Regions from separate parts of the Homo sapiens genome. Here region 1 is linked to region 2. The links come from fine-mapping of genetic effects on gene expression. Tissue or cell type: testis. Region 2 holds a variant in brackets; the other region holds the start of a gene. All regions are shown on one strand. Distances are from middle to middle.

Region 1 (8,179 bases), 56 kb after region 2:
CATACCCCCTTTTCCCTCTCAATGCGGACTTCTCTGCAGGTGCTGGCTCCAGGCCAGAGGGCAGGAGGGTCGTCTTGGCCTTCAGCTCATAGCAGGCAAGGTCGAGCAATGGGGAAGGGGTGGCGTCTGGGTCCCAGCTAATGGCCAAGATGGAGCTCCTGCTTGAGGGGACAGGGCCAGCTTCTGGGAAGCATCTTTCAGTCCAGCGAGGAGAGCGAGACCAAAACTGGGATCCTCTGCCTGGAGATGAAGCCTTCTCCTCTAGAGCAGTCTTTGGGTTTTGGGAGAGTTTATGGCCCCAGCTCAGACTTAACAAATCGACTCACAATACATCATCTCCAACAACTTGTTTGGCTAAGGAGCATAAGCTCTCCCTCTGATAGAAGATGTTTATGCAGGTTTTCAAACAAACCTCCAGGTCATGACCCCTCACTCTCAGCATCAACACAGCTGCCTGCGGTCCCCTGGGGCCCCTCCTGGGCACAGCAACCTGGAGAATGTGGACTGTACCAGGCTGCTTCCGACCTGGGTCCAGCTCCTTCCTCCTTGTGCCTGGAGAGGACAGCAAAGACTGGAGGGCTCTGGCTGCCTTCTGCCTCGCCCAGGGCCTCTTTCATTGACATGGTAACCCCACCTCCTCACCTACTTGTCCTCTAGGCTCAGGCCTCCTGTGACGTAGACAAAGGAAGCCTAAATGGACAGGCTGGCAGACCTGGACTTTCCTTCCTTCTGGCATTGCCATTTAGCAACCATGTGACCCCAGGCTGGTGACATGCCTTTAGGAGGCCCCACTTCTCACTTGTAACACTGGCTTCGCCTCATCTGCTGCAGGCTTGATGTGGACAGGGGTGCGATCCAGGAGGCACTTCCAGTCGCCCCCTACTAGTGGCTCAGAGCAAGGGGCCGAGGCCTCTGACCTCACTCTCCCTCCATCCCCAGGGCTGCAAGGAAGCTCTGGAATGAATGCGATTCCAGGGTGTGGCTTGGGCTCCCGTTTGTTTTCAAGGCTAGTGACTGTCCTGTTTCTAACTGCTCTTGAGAATAAATGCACGCTACAGGATGGTGAAAGCCTAGGAGAGGAAGGACTCCTATTCAGAAGTAATATTCTCACTGGGCGCAGTGGCTCATGCCTGTAATCCCAGCACTTGGGGAGGCCAAAGCAGGCAGATCATGAGGTCAGGGGATCGAGACCGGCCTGACCAACAAGGTGAAATCCCATCTCTGCTAAAAACACAAAAATTAGCTGGGCATGGTGGTGAGCGCCTGTAATCCCAGCTACTTGGGAGGCTGAGGCAGGAAAATCGCTTGAACCTGGGAGGCAGAGGTTGCAGTGAGCCGAGATCGTGCCATTGCACTCCAGCCTGGGCGCAGAATGAGGCTCTGTCTTAAAAAAAAAAAAACAAAAAAAACAAACAAACAAAAAAAAAAAAACTCACAAAGTGATGGAAAAAAATTAGAAAGTTCACACACACACCCCAATATGCAGGTTTCCTGAGAAATCTCTGAAACTGTACTGGGCAGAGCGGCTGGGAGGGATGAGTCTGCCCCTTGGTGCCTGAACCTCTCGGTCCTTCCAGAGTGACATGAGGTGGGCCTGGCAGGTGGCTTTCTCCCAGCAGCAGGGACCTACCTTCTGCTGCCACTAGCCTGTTAGTAAGTAGGCTAAAATCCCCACTTTACACTTTGAGATGCAAGGCGGGCGGATCACCTGAGGTCAGGAGTTTACGAGACCAGCCTGACCAATATGGTGAAACCTCGACTCTACTAAAAATACCAAAAAAAAATTAGCTGGGCGTGGTGGCAGACACCTGTAGTCCCAGCTTCTCAGGGGACTGAGACAGGAGAATTGCTTGAAACCAGGAGGCGGAGGTTGCAGTGAGCCAAGATCGTGCCCAGCCTAAGTGACAGAGGGAGACTCCGTCTAAAAAAAAACCAGTTTACCTGCCTGGAGACCGTGGGGTTTATTCTTCATCATTCTCACCCCAGGGCAAAAAGAGACAACTCTCCATCCACGGTGGCAAGGCTGGGGTTCTGAGTGTGTCCCCTCGAGCACTGCGCTCCGCTAAGGAAAGTGCACGCCCACCCTCCCTTCCTTCTGGGTGACAAGAATCCAGGTGTGCAGCGTCCTCACTAGGTTGCTTCCTCGTGCTTGATACTCCCCGCTGAGCTGCACAGACGCGAAGCCTGCCTTTGCACAGCTCCGTCTCTGACCACTCAGTTATTTATCCATTCACTCAGCAAACACGTTTTCTTGCCTGCTCACTCCAAGTCCACTGCAGACGGACACCCTGCAGCCTGCCATGGACCCACAGATAGATTGTGTTTGGCCCACACCATGTTTTGTTTTGTTTTTGTTTTTGTTTTTGTTTTGTTTTTTTGAGATGGAGTCTCACACTTGTCACCCAGGCTGGAGTGCAATGGTGCAATCTCGGCTCACTGCAACCTCTGCCTCCCGGGTTCAAGCGATTCTCCAGCCTCAGCCTCCCAAGTAGCTGGGATTACAGTCACCTGCCACCATGCCCGGCTAATTTTTTGTATTTTTAGTAGAGACAGGGTTTCACCATGTTGGCCAGGCTGGTCTCGAACTCCTAACCTTGTAATCTCCCCACTCAGTCTCCCAAAGTGCTGGGATTACAGACGTGAGCCACCATTAAAATTTTGAATTAATTGCCAAAGTTGAAAAGTGTGGAAATTGCAAGAAAAATTCTGATTTTTGGATTTCTCTTGAATAATTTAAAAAAACCCAAAAATCTCACCATCCCATGTGACCACGTTCTCTGGCAGCCCCTTCCCGAGGTGACACAGGCCTGGCTGCCCCCTGCTGGTCCCTTCAGGCAGTTCACCTTCACTCCCTGTGACTGATGGACAATAACAAAACGAGTGTTTAGCATTAGCCATGTGCCAGTTTCTAAGTGTGTCAGACATATTGACTCACATCAGCCTCACAATGACAGTGTGGTAGATGCTATGATGCCCATTTATTCAAGAAAGACTTGCTGGGGGCCCAAGCCTATCAGGTTCTGGCAATGGAAATGCATCCGGGAACAACACAGACAAAATCCCATCCTTCACGGAGCTTTCATTCCGGTGAGGGGACATGCAGCGTGCCGATGATGGTGGGGGTTGTGCTATTATAGATAGAGGGTCAGTATAGGCCTGGCTGAGCAGGTGACATTTAAGCAGAGACATGACTGCAGTGAAGGTTTAGAAGAGTGTCCCAGGTGGAAAGAGGTGAAGAAACAAGCCTGGGGCCACACAGCTAGTTAAGTAGCCAAGCTGGGACTTGAACCCATGCTGGCCCCAGAGTCTGTGCTCCTAACCATTGCATTCTAGGGCTTGATATGAGATGCCAGCCCCGCCCCGAGATGCTCAGAGTTAGTGAGGAAGAGAAACAGGGAACATGGCTGCTGTTAGAGGGCTGGGGCTGGGGGTGCCGGAGGCCCCAGCTCTGAGGGTTCCAACCTCCTGTCCTGTTCTAGTATCGTCCCGGGAGGCCGAGATGAATTGCCTGCCTGCCCTGGGCTCTTTATTTTAATCTCACTAGGGTTCTGGGAGCACCCCCCCCCACCGCTCCCGCCCTCCACAAAGCTCCTGGGCCCCTCCTCCCTTCAAGGATTGCGAAGAACTGGTCGCAAATCCTCCTAAGCCACCAGCATCTCGGTCTTCAGCTCACACCAGCCTTGAGCCCAGCCTGCGGCCAGGGGACCACGCACGTCCCACCCACCCAGCGACTCCCCAGCCGCTGCCCACTCTTCCTCACTCATGGGGAACAGCAAAAGTGGGGCCCTGTCCAAGGAGATCCTGGAGGAGCTGCAGCTGAACACCAAGTTCTCGGAGGAGGAGCTGTGCTCCTGGTACCAGTCCTTCCTGAAGGACTGTCCCACCGGCCGCATCACCCAGCAGCAGTTCCAGAGCATCTACGCCAAGTTCTTCCCCGACACCGACCCCAAGGCCTACGCCCAGCATGTGTTCCGCAGCTTCGATTCCAACCTCGACGGCACCCTGGACTTCAAGGAGTACGTCATCGCCCTGCACATGACCACCGCGGGCAAGACCAACCAGAAGCTGGAGTGGGCCTTCTCCCTCTACGACGTGGACGGTAACGGGACCATCAGCAAGAATGAAGTGCTGGAGATCGTCATGGTCAGTCTCCCCTCTCCCCTTCTGGCTGGGCGGTGCCGGGGTCGCTCCGGGCTGGGGGTCCCCTGCTGCAGCTGCTGCAGAGGGAGTGGATCTGTGGGTGGAGCGGGGGATGCGGGCCACTGGCTCTGAGAGCGTGGTGCTCCGAGATGCTGATATTGATAGAGGGGTGGGCACTTGCCCACAGCTTCGTTGTCTTCCCGGAGCAGAATCTGAGTGTTTCCTAATACAGCCATGTTATGCTTGGCTTCACGATGTTTGGGTCAACAACGGACGATATAGACCACTGTGGTCCCATAAGATTGTAATGGAGCTGAAAAATTCCTACTGCCTAGTGACGTCATAGCACAGTTACTTTATTTTTCAAATGCATTTAGTGTAGCCTAAGTGTATCCGTAAAGTCTGTAGTTGTGTACGGTAATGTCCTAGTTCTTCACATTCACTCACTACTCACTCACTGACTCACCCAGAGCAACTCCCAGTCCTGCAAGCTCCACTCATGGTGAGTGCCCTAGACAGGTCTACCATTTTGTATCTTGGTTTTTTATTTTTTATTTTTTTGAGATGGAGTCTCACTCTGTAGCCCAGAGCTGGAGTGCAATAGTGCGATCTTGGCTCACTGCAACCTCTGCCTCCCGAGTTCAAGCAATTCTCCTGTCTCAGCCTCCCGAGTAGCTGGGATTACAGGTGTGCACCACTATGCCTAGCTAATTTTTGTATTTTTAGTAGAGACGGGGTTTCACCATGTTGGTCAGGCTGGTCTCAAACTCCCGACCTCCAGCGATCCGCCAGCCTCAGCCTCCCAAAGTGCTGGGATTTACAGGCATGAGCCACTGTGCCCGGCCCATTTTTTATCTTTATACTGTATTTTTACTGCATGATTTCTATGTTTAGCTATGTTTAGATGCACAAATACTTACCATCGTGTGACAACTGCCTGCAACATTCAGGACAGTCACGTGCTGCACAGGTTTGTAGCCTAGGAGCAAAAGGCTGGACCATGGAGCTCAGGGATGTAGTCGGCTCTACCATCTGTGTTCGTGCAAGGATGCTCTATGATGTTCCCACATAGAAGTTGCCTTAAGATGTGTTTCTCGGAATGTATTCCTGTCTCTGAGCGACACGTGACTATATTTACATTTTTTCTTTCTCTCCATCCTTTGTTTCTTCCTTCCTTTATTAAAATGTCCTTTGAAATTTTCAGCAGTACACATTCAAGTTGAATCACTGTTCATTCTAAACACACAATATGCTTCTAATATAAAGTAGAAAGAGGTCAAAGTTGGGGGCATGAACTCTGAGTTCTAGTCCTCATGTTCTCCCCAGCGCGGGGCGGATCATGGCACCACGCATGAGCCCCCGCTTCCCACGCGCGGCGTGGCTCCCCGGCTCCTGACAGTTTCCCTGTGAGGCGCACAGGCTTCCATATGGTTCCCAACACGCCTTCTCCCCTGTCCATACTGTCCTCCTGTCAGATCCTTTGTTGTGAAAGTAATGGCAAAAACCATAATTACTTTTCCACTAACCTCGTAGGTGTCTTGAAAATGGTTTATCTGATATAAAAGTAACTCATGAAATTTAGAAACCTAGGCAAAAGAGACTAACAATTGCCTCTAATTCCAACATCCAGGGAAAACTTTTCTTAGTATATCAGTATATACCTTTTCAGTCTTTTACCTATATAATTTTAAATAATGTTAAAGCTATGACATATTCACATACGATTTTTTATCATACATTTTTCAGTTACTCTTTTATCATGAGTGCTTTCCATATCATTACATATTCTTCCAAAACACTTTTTTTTTTTCTTCAGACAGAGTTTTGCTCTTGTCGCCCAGGCTGGAGTGCAGTGGCGTGATCTCAGCTCACTGCAACCTCCCCCTCCTGGGTTTGAGCAATTCTCCTGCCTCAGCCTCACGAGTAGCTGGGATTACAGGCACCTGCCCAGCTAATTTTTGTATTTTAGTAGAGACGGGGTTTCACCATGTTGGCCAGGCTGGTCTCGAACTCCTGACCTCAGGTGATCTGCCCGCCTCGGCCTCCCAAAGTGCTGGGATTACAGGCGTGAGCTTCCGCACCCAACCTCTTCCAAAACTCTTTTAATAGCTGCTTGGAATTCTGGCTTATGGAAATGTGGAAATTATTGAACATTCCTATGTTTTTGGACATTAGGTTGTTTCCATTTCTTTCCTATTATACCAGTTCTAATTTCCTTCATTTGATTTTTTTTTAATTTATTCTTTTTCAGTCCCCCTGCCCCTGCCACTTACCTTATTCTTCTAATTCCATTCCTGTTAGTAGAGACTATTGTTTAGATGTTAATAACTTTGTGTGCATTGGCAATCATGCTTTCATTTGCATGATGACAAATGCACAAAAATCTTCCACAGTTATTAGGAGAAATCATAAATAAAACAGCAGAGCATGCAGCTTGTGGTCCATGGGCTTATCCTCAATGCTCAGCTCGGGCCTCCCATTCTGGCAGGCATGTGTCTCTCTCATTGTTATCTTGGCACAGCCTGCAGAGAAAGCTCCCTCGGATTGGCTGTGGGGTCTCTGGGTGGCCTGGGACAGGGACTAAGTCTTCAGAGTGGCATAAACAATGCAGGGCCCAGCAGAAGCCTACAAATTGATACTCATTGAATAAAAGGAGGAGGAAAGGGAGGAGGGGGAAATGAGGGAGGGAGAGAGGGAAGGTAGGAGTCAGGAAGGAAAGAGGGGGAAGCAAGGGGAAGGAGAGAAGGAAGGGAGGGAGGAGAAGGAAAGGAGGAGAGAAAGGAAGAAAGAAGAAAGGAAAGGGAGGGAGGGAGACTCCATCAATGGCTGGGGCTGTGCAAGGTGGCAGAAGGCTCTGCTATTCACCAGATTACAAGTTCATGGGCAGAGCACTGACTGAGGGAGTTAAAAGTGAAGGGTTCTAGTCCCAGCTCTGACTCCAACTAGCAGTGTTGCTGTGGGAAAACCATATAACCTTCCTGGGCCCAGGGTGAGGATTTGATTATTTTTGCAGTCTTTCCTGAGGCTCTGGAGGTCTGTCCCTCCGTGTTGGAAGTGGGGTGGGCAGGCACTCACTGCCAGCTTCTAGCTGGCACACCTGCACATGGTGCCCAAGGCCCTGCACAGATGGATAGGAGTGTAGGAGCCACCTACACTGGCGTCCAGCTCAGGGCTTTGAGTGCTGCCAGCGACGCTGCTGCCCTGGGCTGTGGCTTTGGCCTCTTTACTCCTTTATCCAGCACCAGGGGGCTGAAGGGAAACTTCTCAAAGCTGTCGACCTTCCCTCCAGGATAATTTCACAGCCATTATTGCCCCTGCCTGACCTGCTCACAGGTGTCTCCGGGGAGGCAGAACGCAAATGGTTTGCGAATGTTTTCTCCCATTCCATAAGTTACATTTTGATTTTGTTCATTGTTTCCTCTGACATGGAGAAGCTCTTTAGTGTGATGCTATCCTGCTTGTTTATTCTGGTTTATGTTGCCTTTGCTTTTGGTGTCATATCCAAAAAATTATCGTCAAGACCAGTGCCAAGAAGCTTTTCCCCTACGTTTTCCTCCAGCAGTTTGACGGTCTGAGGTCTTATGTTTAAGTCTTTAATCCATTTTGAGTAGATTTTTGTGTACAGTGTAAGATGTGGATTTTCCAGGGTTGCCAGCCCCTTAAAGTTCCTCCTAACGAGTTCTTTCTTTCTGTTTGGTACAGGCTATTTTCAAAATGATCACTCCCGAGGACGTGAAGCTCCTTCCAGACGATGAAAACACGCCGGAAAAGCGAGCCGAGAAGATCTGGAAGTACTTTGGAAAGAATGATGATGGTGAATTCCTTTTCCTTCATTGCCTTTGATTTTTCAACCATGGGCTGTTTCCTGGAAATCCCAACAAGATTTATTCTTCTGAGTCACAGTGTCCAGGCAGGATGGGGGACACCTCATTCCATTGTGCATTTTCAGAGCTGTTTGAAGGGTTGGACAGGGGAATGGCCTTAAGGGTGAGCAGGAGCCAAAACTGTTTTCTGTGCAATTAGAACAAGAGCAAACTTC
Region 2 (8,179 bases):
GGTGTTTAGTTTTCTGTTCCTGTGTTTGCTGAGAATGATGGCCTCCAGCTTCATCCATGTCCCTACAAAGGACATGAACTCATTCTTTTTTATGGCTGCATACTATTCCATTATGTATATATGCCACATTTTCTTTAGTCTATCATTGATGGGCATTTGGGTTGGTTCCAAGTCTTTGCTGTTGTAAATAGTGTAGCAATAAACACGTGTGCATGTGTCTTTATAGTAGAATGACTTATATTCCTTTGGGTATACTCAGTAATAGGATTGCTGGGTCAAATGGTATTTCCGGTTCTAGATCAAAGGCTAATAGTCTTGCTGCCTTTGCAGAATCGCGTCCTAGTGGGTCCCTTCCCTTCCTGCCCACCAGTGCCTGGGCCTTTTTGTGATCCACCTTTCAATTGTTCTGGCTTCTCACGAACTTCCCAGGAAGACCCTCTAGACACAGGAGAGAGGAAAGAGAATGGGACGAAGGGCTTGGAAACTTGAGGGACCCATTGGAGCATGGAGTTCAAAGTGGAGAAAGAGGTGAGATGTTTAATCTCCACCACCTCCTACCTACCTCAATAATTCAATAACACATGTTCTTATTGAGCAATTTCGGTCTTTGTCAGGCACTGAGACACAGGTGATATCTATAGCCCTGCGTTGATGGAGTTTTATGGCTGGTGTGGGAGAAACAGTAGATAAATAATGGTGCAATTTCAGCAGTGACAAAGGCTGGAGGAAGTGGATGCTGTGAGAACCTAGCCTGGTGCTGGAAATGTCAGGAATTAAGGTACCTTAAGAAAAGATACCTATTCTAAGACTGGAATGATGAGCAAGGGTTTCACTTGGCAAAGAGGTGGGGAAAGAATAGCTTTCCAGGGGAGGGAATAGCATCGTGGATGCCTGGAGGCAGCAAGGGGGAACCGTGTTTACGCATAGAGACCCAGTGTGGCTGTGGCTTACTAAATCAGCAGGAATAGGGAGGGTGGGAAATGAGGCTGGGGTAGTCTGCGCAGGCCTGCCACGAGGAGCTCAGGGGTTATCCTAACTGCACTGGGAAGCCATTGAGGGGTTTTGTACAGGATCCCACCTGCTGAAGGGATGGGACCCAGATTATTTGCAGGGGGGGAGGAAATGGGCTGAGAAGACATTTGGAGTCGGGGGCCTGCTGAATCACTTGTGAATGACCCACTCCAGTTTACCAAGCACTTCCTGTGTGGTATCACCCCCTGCCAGGCCTCAGGGTGATGCAGAGATGCCCAGGTGGGGTGTCCTGACCCCTGGGCAGGCCTTTACAAAATAAATGGAAGGGAAGAGTTCTCTGGAATCACAGGCAAAGGAAATTTAAAACAAATACTCTTATTATAGGCATTTGCAAACCTTTGCAAAAGTAGAGGGAATATATAATAAGGTACCACAAATCTGTTAAGCCCAACGATTACCTGCCTTTGTCCAATCTTGTTTTATTTGTGCTCCCATCCCCTCCCCCAATCCCCTTGCCCTCCACCCCCTAGATTATTTTAAACCACATTTCTGACTTACTGTTTTAAATGCAAATATTTCAGAATGTATCTTCCAGGAAGAAGACATAATGATAATACCATTATCATATTTAAGAAAACATTAATTCAATAATGCCGCCTAATATATACACTCCAGATTCCTCAATTGTCTCAAAAAATGCCTTTTTTTAAGAAAGAAAAAAGAGAGAGATGGGGTCTTGTTCTGTACCTCAGGCTACAGTACAGTGACACCATTATAGCTCGTGAATTCTAGAACTCCTGGGCTCAAGCGATCCTTCCACCTCAACCTCTCAAAGCCTAGGGTTACAGGTGTGCGCCACCATACCTGGCCCCCAAATCCCTTTTATGGCTGCTTTTCTCCCCAGTCCAGGATCCCTTCAGGTTCACACACAGATACACTGGTTGCTGTGTCTCTGTTGTTTCTCTCTCTCTCTCTCTTCCCCCACCAAAAAACTGCTTTATTGAGCTGTAATTCACATACCCATACAATTCACCCATTTAAAGTGTATACAATTCAGTGTTTTTTACTATATTTACAAAGTTTTACAACCATCATCAAATCTATTTTAGAACATTTTCATCAACCCAAGCAGAATCACCTGAAGACTTAGGCAGCCCCTAATCTTTCTGTCTCTATGGGTTTGCCTCTTCTGGACATTTCATATAAATGGTATCATACTATCTGTGGTCTTTTGTGTCTGGCCTCTTTCACCTGGAATTCCAAGGTTCATTCACATCGCGGCATGGATGAACACTCCATTCCTTTTTATGACAGAAGAATATTCTGTCGTATGGATAGAACGTTTCATCCAAGTTGTTGCCTGTCTCGTTGCCTCTACACTCAATCCCTTACACCTTTTTTTCTTTTTTTTTTTTTTCATCACCTTGACGATTTATTTTTGAGGAGTCCAGGTCAGGTGTCTTATAGAATAACCTGCGTTCTTGGTCTGACTGTTCTCTTATGCGTAGGTTCAGGTTCTGGAGTTTGGGCAAGAATAGCTGGACAGGGCATGTGGGGTTCTTTTTACTGCATTTGGGGGCACAACCACCCAGGTTGGCACCCTACTCATGAGGCTCAGTTTGCACTCTCGGTTAAGGTGCTGACTGCCAGATTTCTCCTTTGCAGGGGTACATTTTCCCTTTCTAATTTGTCAGTCATCTGTGAGGTGCCAGTGTAAGACCCTGTGAGTATCCTGTGCCCTGGCAGTCTTTCCATCCCCTGCTTTCAGCATCCTTGAGGATCATGGCCTGAGTCCCCTTTGAGGCTGGGGTTTGCAAATGGTGGTCATCCAATTTCTTGTACATTTTTTATTGGCATTCTTCTGAAATAAATGTTCTCTCCCTTCCCCTTTGGAGTTAGTTAGTTAGTTGCAGTCATTCATTCATATTTGTGCTCAAATTGTCGCAGATTTGGCCTGTGGTAGCCCTTTAAGTTGTTTATGTTCTTTTGTTATCTCTCCATTATTCTCTGAATACTTTCTTACCTCTTGGTACAATAGGATATTCCAAATACCTGCCTTTGAAATTAGTACCAAGGAGCTTCCGGTAATATTTGGAAACCAATTTCTAGCCAGTAGATGTTGTCACTGTGATGAGATGTCATTCCTTCTGGGCCCTTTCAATGGAGAATTATGATAGTGTGTGTGTCACGTGTGTGTGTGTGTGTGTGTGTGTGTGTATAAAATGCACGTGATATGTATATGAAGTTGGAGCAGTAGGCACAGGTTATCAGCAGCACAGGCAGAGCCTGAGATTGCCTGTGATCTACCTTGGCCCTCAGTGGTTGAAGTAAAACACTGCTAATAGAACAGAGACCAGGGAAGGTGCTGACACCTAACACGTGGAACACCCAACCTCAATGCCATTACTTGTATTCCTATCCTAGCCAAGTTATAAGGAGGAGGTGCGACCTCTGCGTCAAGCCTTATTCTACAGAGATTTATACACAGTGGTCCCAAAATATATGTTTGTGGTTGATGGAAATCTTTTTTGCCTTCCTGCAAAGACACATGGAAAACAAAATATTGTCTCAGGTCTCAAAGTGGAGAGATGGCGGAAGATAGAGGAAAGAGTTATGCAGGCTTGGATTCTAATTTCCACTCCTCTGTTTACTATAGCCTTGTGACCCTGGACAGTTTTACTTCTGCAAGCCCCAATTTCATGATCTGCAAAATGGAGTTGATGCCATTTAACTTGCTGGGGTTGTAAGGATGAAATGAGATTAAATATGTCAGATGGCTAACCTGGAGCCTGCCGTAATAAGCAAGCACTCAGTAGACAGTCGCTCTTGCACTGCTTCTCCCCTTAGCCCCCTCATCACCAACATCATCAGCATCCATAGGCAGACTCGAAGGCTGTTGCCAAGGCTGCTGGAGTGCTGGTTCCCCTCTCTGGGGGGCTGCAGTGGGAACGCGGTGGTGATGGTGGTAATGTGTCCATGACAGGAAGACAGACTCCTGCAGACTGCAGAATCCATCCCATAGGCTACTCTTTCCCCTTCCTGCCATGTATTTGCTTGGCTAGAGTCTGTACGTGAATGAACCTATGGAGAGAGAGACTTCTATCCCTGTCTCTTCTCCTTGGTGACTGGTACCTCCTGCCATGTAGCCTCCGTCTGCCTTTCTCCCTGTGCAGTTTTGTCAAGTGGGAAGGTATAGGGTGGGCCAGCTGGATGAGATGATGCACTAAAAATGTCTATGGAAGCTGTAGTTGGCCATAAAGTTGACGTTGGCCAGGAGCCCGTTGGGGTCACTAGAGGAGTTGCCATAAGTAGAGGTACCTCAGTGAAACCACAGTGTAGATCA[G/C]ATCCATGTATCTCTGAGTGAGGTCCACAGATTCTGCAAATCAGAGGTGCTGGCACCACCTGGGACCTGCTGGATCAGGCCCAGCAGCTGAGAGTGCAGCTGGGACTCTATTTTGGACACTTTTTCCTCAGTTGATTCTGATGCACCTCAAAGCTTGAGGACCAGTGATAACCATCCATTTGACAGATGGAGAAATTGAGGCTCAAAGAAGTCAGATTCTCTGGCCAGGGTCTCAAGGCTAGTAATCATTTTCTTGTCTGTGAAATTAATGCTCTGTAAGGTTCATTTTTGCTAGACACCTTAAGGATATCAGTTTTCCTGAGTTGACTTTAATTAGCAACCCAAGTAAGACTGTATGGGAGTAAGGGTATGCGACCTTAGCAGGGGCATAGTCAAGCTCCCTGGTTTGCCTAATTTGCTGACGGGTTTCTGAGGCAAAGGCTCGCCCTCACCTGCAGATGGTCATTTGGCCAGGTGTCCAGGGTCGTGCTGGCCTGAGGGGCGGGGTGCCCCCCACTCCAAGCCGGTGGTTCCTTCTTGTTGAAGCCCCTCCATCCTTTTTCTGGCCTTTATCTATAAAGTGACAGCCACTTCCTTACATTCTACCAAGGAAGAGTAAGGCCAGACTGGCCGCAGTGGCTCATGCCTATAATCCCAGCACTTTGGGAGGCCGAGACAGGTGGATCGCCTGAGGTCAAAAGTTCGAGACCAGCCTGGCCAACATGGTGAAACCCTGTCTCTACTAAAAATACAAAAATTAGCTGGGCGTGCTGGCGGGCACCTGTAATCCCAGCTACTCAGGAGGCTGAGGCAGGAGAATTGCTTGAACCTGGGAGGCAGAGGTTGCTGTGAGCCATGATCACGCCACTGCACTCCAACCTGGGTGACAGAATGACACTCCATCTTAAAAAAAAAAAAAAAGAATAAGGTCATGCACAAGTCCTGGGGCACAAGTGTGATGGCCACCTGCGGTGCCTTAGGGGTAAGCCTGCTTCCCAGGTTGCTGTGTGGCTCAGGATAGGAGACATCCCAGGTCCTGCTTGGGGATCTCTGGTATTGAGCCCCCAACATAATTGCTAATAGAACAACAGAGACCCAGAATCAAACATTCTTTGGAGTCGTAGGCTCTTAGGACACGTGTAGCATTTTGCACTGGCAGTCCTTAATTTTCTCTGCCAGAACGATCCCAGGACTTTGGCAAACTGCTGAGGACCCCAGGCTCAGAGGTACTTGGGACTCTGGTTTTCTTACTGGCGGTGGAAGACATCAAAAGGCAATATAAAGACTGAGTGGAAGCTGGAAGTCGGTTTGGCTGAGAAATCCCTCCTGGCTCACGGGGTTGGGGGAGCGGGGAGTCAGGGAGGTGACCGAGCAGCGCCCCAGTGCACATTGTGTGTATTTAGGTTTGACGTTTTGGACCCGGGGGGTTTCAGAATAAAATGTCGTGTGCTGATTCCTCAGTGCCAGGAGGTGGTGGCCTTAACTCTCTTCTCCCCAGTGGATTCCGCGGCTTCAGGCAGCAAGCGGCACGCGGAACGTTCACCAGCAGAGGGCAGCGGAGGGGTTAACTCCCCAAATCACAGACTGAGAGAAGAGGAGGGGAGACCTGGTTTGGAGCAGTTCTCTCAGAGCCTGTGCAGGAGGCTTCCTTAATTCGCCTTCAGCCCGAGAGCTGGGCGTGGGAACAGCGTGGGGTCAGGGAGACCCCTGCTTGCCCTGGCCCAGAATATGGTGACTTAGGATTCAGACTGAGCATCCCTGATTCCCCAGCGCCTCCACCCTCAGGGAACCTGAATGGGGGGAAAAAATGTCCAATATGGAGAACAGCTTTGACGATGTTTCTTGCCTCTCTCCCCAGAACCTGGGATCCTCATCGCCAAGCAAAAAGCAGAGCAAGGAAAACACCATCACAGTAAGTGGCTCCCGAGGGGCGCCCTCAGGGTGGGCTGCGAGCTGGGGCATTTGGCTGGGCTGTTGCCATGGCGATGTGGACCGCCAAGCAGAAGTGATGCCCAACCTGGAAACGGGGAAGTTCCAAAGCTCGGATTTCACTCAAGTTCCCCATCCACATGCCCCTCCCACCTCCCCTTCTCCTGTCAATTTCACATTTCACTTCTCTCCTGGTGAACAAGTGGAAGGAGGATGGCTGGGATGATGCAGAAGCCGTTTTTTCAGGGCAGGAGGGGAAGGTATGCGTGCGGGAGTGGGTTGAAGGGGGTGGACTGTGCTCAGCGCAAGTGATGTGACGTGTAAATTACAGCCACGGCAGGGTTGCTTTTGTGCGGGGTAACTTCTGGAAGATGTCAAAGTAAAAAGCAAGAGAAAGCGTCCTAAGAATAGAGTTCCTAGGAGTCCCTGAGGGGAGCAGGCAGCTTCTGCCTAGAGTGGCCAGCCTGCCTCCCAGGGCGCTTCGAGATGCCCAACCCCATGTGGAGATGAGGGGGAGCCCACCCCACCCACCCCCATGCAGAGATGAAGGGGAGCCCCACACTCCACCTCTGCTCCTCAGCCCTGTGTTTGGGGCAGCTGGGGCTGGACATCATTGCCCCCTGAGGGGCACAGGCCTGAGAAGTGTGGTCGCAGGTTTGCTATTTTGGCACAAGGGCAGGAGAGCAGGGAACGGGGTATTGCTCTCTTAGGCTCCAACTCACACAGCTCTGAGCCATTCCGACCACCCCTGTGGAGACAAAACCAAGAGTGGGTGCATTTCCCTGCTTCGTCCAGGCTGCACATCCTGCTTTGGGAGAAAAAGTGTAGGTAAACAATTAACAATAACAATTGCTGCAACTTTTGTGTGCACTTATTATGCACATGTAGTGATCCAAGTGGCTCATTTAATTGTCCATTAGCTATATGAAGTGTCAGTCGTGGAATCAATATAGTATAACGATGATGAACGTGGACTCTGAGGCCAGAGTGTCGGTTATATTAATGACAGTGCAACAGCCTGGGGCAAGTTTCTTGACTTCTTCCCGTCTCAGTCAATAACTGTCAAGTGGGGAAATGGGGGGTAGTGGGTGGTCTCTGCCTTAGGGATGGTGTAGGGACTAAATGGGTCCATCCATGGAAAGCACTTAGAACAGAGCCTGCATATAGTAAGTGCTCTGTGCACACTCATCACCCTGTTTACAGATGAGGAAACTGAGGCACAGAGCCGCACCTTGCTCACGGTCACCCAGCTGGGAAGTATCAGGATTTGAAATCTATGTCCTTACCACAGTGCCCCTTCTGGAGCTGGCTTGGGTTCCTTGTGTCATGAGCTCCTTTGGAGTGCCCTGTGCTGATGGACGGTGTCTCCAAGGGCTGGGCAGAACGACTCAGCCTGCTTGGACTGTGGGGTAGCAGCAGCCTCCCTGTTACCGGTGGAGTTGATGGAGCTGGTGGGTAGGGGGTGTGGGCAGGCTCAGGTGCAGAGTTCCAGAGGGTACAGTCCCCATCTTCAAATTGTCACAAAATGCCCCAGAATGCTGGGGCACAGCAGGAGCTCTCCAGAGTCTTCTGAAATACATAAAAAGGAGGGGGAGGAGAAAGGGGGGGAGGTCGGAGTGGGAGACATATTTGAATTCTAGAAGAAAAACAAAAATGCAAAGTGAAAAGCAGAGTGTTATGTCGTGGAGGGTTGCCTTAAAGGCGCTTAGTGATGGTGCCCAGGCCACAGGGTGGGGCACCTGCTGGAGTCCATCTTACAGCCAGGGCTTCGGGTGTGGCCGGAGGGGGCTGATGGCGGCCCTTGTTGGGCCCCTGATGGGCAGCACACCTCGCCCATCCCTGCCTTCCCTGTCGCTTCCTGCTGAGCCATATCATTGCTTCTCATGAGGGAGTCTGCAAATTGTATTCTCAAGCCTCCAAGACCTTTTTTAAAAT

Evidence for each region. PIP is the estimated chance that this variant, and not a neighbour inherited with it, causes the effect.
Region 1: RCVRN starts here. The variant in region 2 is fine-mapped to the expression of RCVRN in testis (GTEx, PIP 0.95).

The regions. Positions count from the first base shown.
Region 1 is chr17:9,900,764-9,908,942 of GRCh38, reverse strand. RCVRN (recoverin) reads left to right here and starts at 3,672. Exons shown (of 3, transcript NM_002903.3): 1 at 3,672-4,143; 2 at 7,843-7,954. The coding sequence starts at 3,763.
Region 2 is chr17:9,957,250-9,965,428 of GRCh38, reverse strand. GAS7 (growth arrest specific 7) reads left to right here. Exons shown (of 14, transcript NM_201433.2): 5 at 6,174-6,227. Among named protein-coding and RNA genes, the nearest start is that of RCVRN, 56 kb to the right of the region's middle. RefSeq lists a silencer at 6,416-6,609. The variant G/C (reference allele first, on the strand shown) is at 4,316.